2 separate regions of the Homo sapiens genome follow, and region 1 is linked to region 2. Evidence: fine-mapped expression QTL. A gene starts in region 2. The other region holds a variant in brackets. All regions are shown on one strand. Distances are between the middles of the regions.

Region 1 (2,924 bases), 23 kb after region 2:
GTACTCCTGGTTCCTAGGTGAGCAGGTGATGCCCCAGGGACCTTTGTAGCCACTTCACTTTTTTTCTTTTCTCTGCCTTGGTATAGCATATGTTTTTGTAAGTTTATGCATACAGTAATTTTAAGTAATTTCAGAAGAAATTCTGCAAGCTTTTCAAAATTGGACTTAAAATCTAATTCAAACTAATAGAATTAATGGAATATGTAAATAGAAACGTGTATATTTTTTATGAAACATTACAGTTAGAGATTTTTAAATAAAGAATTTTAAAACTCGTTTTTGTATTCATTTATTCAAGCACTTAGGCAGTCTTTCATAGTTAAGCAGAATATTTTTATATCCACTGCTTGTTTCCATGCATTAATGCTATAGGATTATTTGCTAATTGTTCATATTTAATATTTAAAACAACCCTAAAAATAATATTTTTAAATGGTCCTTATAGGTCTATATTTCAGTGCTTAACACCCAGTGTGCAGAACACTGTTCTAAGTGGTTTGAGAAGAAAAGATTTAGCTGTAGAGCATGTGGATTGAGGAATCTAGCATAAAGGTGGTGGGCAGAGCCATGGAAATGGATGGAACCTTGAGAATTACATGGTGTGGAAAGAATCCCCAGTGAGAGGCAAACCAAGAGTTAATATATATGTTACCCAAGGATTTCTTGGAATTACTAAGAGGATAGAAATATTCAGAAATTAATATGAATCTGTGAATTAATGGACCAAAAAAAATGAAATACAATTTACATGAGTAGCAAATCACATTTCTTTGGTTTCTGGAAAGATATTTCTCTTCACTTAAAAATGCAAATTACAAATGAGATACTATCAGTGAAAAAAGTAGTGGTGTGGTTTGCAGTGGAACTGGTATAGTCACTGATTTTAGGGTAATGTCTTGTAAATTGCTTTTCAAACTGATACCCCATACATATCACATTCCACAAAAGTAATATCCTTCAACAGACTTTGATCTCTCTTGTGGGAAAATTACAAAAAAAAAAAAAAAACTACATGAACAATGCACACATTAGAATGGGAAAAGCAAAAATATGAAAATAATTGAAATAGCCAAGGAAGAGGTAATACTTACTACCCTCCAAAATGATTATACCAATGTGTACTCCCATCAAATGTGAATGAAGTACCTGTTTTTACACCCTAGCTAATTGACTGAAATAAGTCTTTAATCTCGGTAAAACACTTTACACATTAAATGCATTTGCATTTCTTTAGTAAATTTGAGCATGTTTTTATATCTTATTTATAGTTTCATGCCAACTCATCTTGTTCTTTGTCCATTTTTTTATGGGCTGTTTATATCTTTCTTACTACCCTTTATCTGCCCTGAGTTACAGATTTATTTTATAATTTCCTGCCTTTTGACTTACCACACAGATGTTTAAG[T/A]TGTTTATAAAGTCAAATTTATTTATTTCCTTCTATTTTTAAAAAGCCCTTCCCCTTTCCCCAAAAGATAGAAGTTTTCACTCATGTTTTCTTCTGGTCTTTGGTGATGATTGTTTTACATTTAATTCTTCTATCCATCTAGATTTTTTTCCTTTGAGGACAGAGATAGAGATCCAGCTTTATTTTTTTGTTTTAGTTTCCTGTGGCTGCCGTAATAAATTACCACAAACTTGGGTGGCTTAAAACAACAGAAATTTGTTATCTCACAGTTCAGAGGCTAGAGGTCTGAAATCAAGGTTTCAATAGGGCCAGATTCTATCTGAAAGCTCTAGGGGTGGAGGGCCCCTTCCTAGTTTCTAGTGATTGTTGTCAATCCTTGATATTCTCTGACTTATGGCTGCATTATTCCAATTTCTGCCTCTTGTCACCTGGCATTCTTCTCTGTATGTCTGTGTCCAGATCTTTATAAGGACACCAGTCAATTGGATTGATTAGTCCCACTCTAATCCAGTATGACCTCCTCTTAACTTGATTACATCTGTAAAGACACTTTCCAGTTAAGATCACATTCATAGGTACCAGGGGTTAGGACTTCAACACATCTTTTTGAGGATACAACTCAACTCATATATTTCCCTTAACAAATTAGTTATCCCAAATACTATTCATTAAATTATCTAACTTTTCTATGCTGATTTCAAATGTCACATTTATCACATGCCAAATTCTCAGCACTCCTGGAACAGTTTTGTTGTTCAGTCTTTTCCCGTCTATGTATCACACTTTTAATACACATTATACTGGGATATATTTTATGTTTTTTTGAGACAGAGTCTAGCTTTGTCACCCAGGCTGGAGTGCGGTGGCACGAACATGGCTTACTGCAGCCTCAACCTCTTGTAATCAAGCAACACTCCTGCCTCAGCCCCCCAAGTAGCTAGTACAGACGCTCATGACCATACCTGGCTAATGTTCTGTATTTTTTTGTAGAGACAGGGTTTTGCCATGTTGCTCAGGCTGGCTTCAAATGCCTGTGCTCAAGCAATCTGCCTACCTCAACCTCCCAAAGTGCTGCAATTACAGGCTGTTTTGACTTCTGAGGCTTTCCTGAATACTTTCAGCCAATGTTCATTGCTCATATTTCTTAGCAATAATTATTTATTTATTTACTTACTGTATTTTTAGTAGAGACAGGGTTTCACCATGTTAGCCAGGATGGTCTCGATCTCCTGACCTCATGATCTGCCTGCCTCGGCCTCCCAAAGTGCTGGGATTACAGGTGTGAGACACTGCGCCCTGCCAGCAATAATTATTTTTTAGGTGAACTATAACCTAAATTTTTTGGCCAAGTTTTCCCCCAAATTTTAAACTCCTTTGGGATTTATGTTGGCATTGTTTTGACTTTATAAAATGTTTAGAAATAACTAATATTTTCAAGGGTTGAATGTTCTGCAAGAATGGAGACTATTTCTGTCTTCAAGTCTTACATCCCTCATTAGAGGTTTACTTCATACAGGTG
Region 2 (2,924 bases):
TCCCTCTCAGGAACAGAAGACTGGGTTCTGTCCCCTTCCTGATGCTAGGAGGGCTGCCAGTAGACACCCTCAACCGTCAGCGTTCCTCTGGGGAATGCCTCCATGAAAGAAATGGACAGCCCCAAAATCATGACAGTTGGTATTCAATGACTAATCAGTGCTGGGCTTTAAGACCCAGCCCCTCATACCAACTCAAGACACCTTTACAAGGCCATCCCAACTCCAGAGCGCCCCTTGGGAGCCTTTACTGGGATGGCATCACAGATCAACTTCTTCCTCCGCTCTGCTTCCTCCACCTCCCCTTCACAGACGTTTATTCCAAGAGCACTCCCTAATCAATCAATGCCTTATACCTTAATCTCGACCTCAGAGTTTACTGCCAGGGTAACCCAGCCTGTGACAAGTACCACAAAAATGTTTACAAACTGGATATCATATTTTGTCCTACTCCATAGACGCCTAAACGGTAAAGATCAGTTATTTATCCTTGCATCCTTACAACGACTAGAAGGTGTCTTTCATATAGTGGACATCAGAAACACATCAAAGGAAATATTCTCCCTAAACTTAGTCTAGATTGAGCTAAATTCTTCTGATTCAAAGTGTGGTCCTGTTGAAAGGGGCACCAGCATCCCCTGTGCATTTTGTCCGAAATACAAAATCTCAAGACCCAACCTGAATTAGAACTACTGAATCCAAATCTGCATTTTATCAAGATCCCCAGATGGTTCACATGTATGTTGAAGTTTGAGAAGTACTGAGCTAAGAGATTTATTAATACAAGTAAAATGATCTGGCTGATAATACCTCTAGTTTATATAGTGTCTTTATAAGGATTTTCCCTCTTTAAAAATTTTCCTTAACACTAGTAATCATGCAGTCTTTCACTCAACAAATACTAATTGAGTGCCAAGTAAAGATGTCAGCTCTACGGAGCTTACATTTTAGAAGGAGAAGAAAACAAATATCAAGGTGTATATTATAGTGTACAGCAAGGTGAAAAGTGCCATGAAAAAACAGTAGGGCGGGGTAAGGAGGAGGAGAAGGTGTGTTGCAATTTAAAATTTTTAACAAAAGTTCATGATACTCAGAGAATTGAAACAGGTGAGATCATTAGACATTCGCATGTTTGAGCACAAGCGCTGAAGGACTTAGCAATGTGGCTGCAGTGGAATAGGAGAGATGCAAAATAACAGACAAACCCAGAGAGGTAAGAGAGCAGACCTCTTCATGAGAGGCTGCCTGATAAACTGATTTGACACTGAATTGCTGAGAAGGTAATGCAAATAGTTTTTTTCTCCAAGAACAAAGTAGTTCTTGGTCAAGCCGATTTGATTTGGGCTGTGGGAATCTGCACAAACCATTTCACTAGCTAAGTCTCAGGTTCCTCAAATGAAAAAGCAGGGACTGGAAATGGCTTTTGAAGTCTCATTCTCTTCTAAAAATGTCAGGCTCCAAGACAACCAGGTGAAGTCCAAGAGTTAGTAAAATAAGGATTGTGGCTCGGCTGTGGCCTAATGCAAACTTGCACAACCCCAGGAAACCGAAAAAAACTGGAAGAAGAATTGCAGAATGGGGTGCCAGGTTGAAAGACCTTAACCTTTGCACTCAAATTCCTCCCACACCCAGAAGTCCAGGTCCCGACCGCACGACGCCGTGCTCACTGCTGGGTGCTGCGCCTGAGTCCGCCTCCTGCGGCTTCCCGGACTTGACCCCGCCCACGCCCTGGTCCCGCCTCCTGCCGACGCCGGCACAGACCCCGGTGACGGAAGTGACGTAAGGCCGGGGCTGGAGGGCAGTGCTGGGCTGGTCCCGCAGGCGCTCGGGGTTGGAGCCAGCGACCGTCGGTAGCAGCATGGCTCTCCTCTTTCTCCTACCCCTTGTCATGCAGGGTGTGAGCAGGGCTGAGATGGGCACCGCGGATCTGGGGCCGTCCTCAGGTACCGTCGTTCGCGGCAGGGCTGCGGCCGGGTCGGGACGAGAGGGAGGGAGGGATCCGCCCCAGCCGGGAAGCCCCGCCCCGCTTCTCCGAGGTCGCCCTAGCCCGGGACCCCTGCGTCGGGCCCTGAGCGGGCGACGGGGACGCGAGGTGGGGTCGCGAGACTGGGGCTCCGTGGTTTGAACTCGTCGGTTGCCTTTCTCCTGCCTCTTCCCTGGTTGCCGCCACAACAAATCACGCCGCTTGTTTTTCCGACTCTTGTAATCCACTTTTAAATACGATTATGCGCTGCAGAAGGACGTTGCTGGTCAATGTGGGACAGCGTGGTCTCAAAGATTATAATATCGTCTTCTTACTGTACCTTTTTTTATGGTTAGATACGCAGATACTCACTAGTATGCTACGGTTGCCTGCAGTGTTCAGTGCAGTGACAGGCTGTACAGGTTCATGACCTAAGAGCAGTAGGCTGTGTCATCTGGGTTTGTCTGGGTTTCTACTGCCCGAAGAAATTGCCTAAGGGGACATTTCTCCATTTCTCAGAACGGATCTCCATCGTTAAGTGACGCATGACTGTGAGTGTCCTGATCAGCATGTGGCATCGTGGTCTCAGTTCGTGGCTTAAATACTTCTTTCTTAGCGGGGGTGGGGGGGGGGACTCAAAGTGCTTAGGGTAGGAAAGTATGCATTATGTCGCCAGCTGAGAAGTAAGTGGCAGCTGAGAAGTAAGTGGCAGTCCGTCTTAGGTCTCAGTCTGGAAGTGGTGGATTGCCGGCACTCACTAGCAGATTTGGCAGTAGGTCTCTTCGTACGGGTTTGTTCTTCGGAGCATTTTATTTCCACCTGCTTATTGACATTTCCTAGAAAACAAATGTTGAGGGTGGCTTTTCTGAAGTGCAGAGTAATTGTGATTACGAGCTCCAGAGAAAACAGTAAACCTTTTCAATTCAGTTTTCTTTTTTTTATTATGATTTATGATTCATAGGGA

What was found. PIP is the estimated chance that this variant, and not a neighbour inherited with it, causes the effect.
Region 1: its variant is fine-mapped to the expression of IFNGR1 in whole blood (TOPMed, PIP 0.98).

The regions. Positions count from the first base shown.
Region 1 is chr6:137,194,836-137,197,759 of GRCh38, reverse strand. It overlaps IFNGR1 (interferon gamma receptor 1), which reads left to right. Exons shown (of 7, transcript NM_000416.3): 7 at 1-275. Among named protein-coding and RNA genes, the nearest start is that of IL22RA2, 23 kb to the right of the region's middle. The variant T/A (reference allele first, on the strand shown) is at 1,406.
Region 2 is chr6:137,218,259-137,221,182 of GRCh38, reverse strand. It overlaps IFNGR1 (interferon gamma receptor 1), which reads left to right and starts at 1,798. Exons shown (of 7, transcript NM_000416.3): 1 at 1,798-1,940. The coding sequence starts at 1,856. RefSeq lists enhancers at 1,328-1,577, 1,428-2,158 and silencers at 1,618-1,847, 1,888-2,107, 2,568-2,617.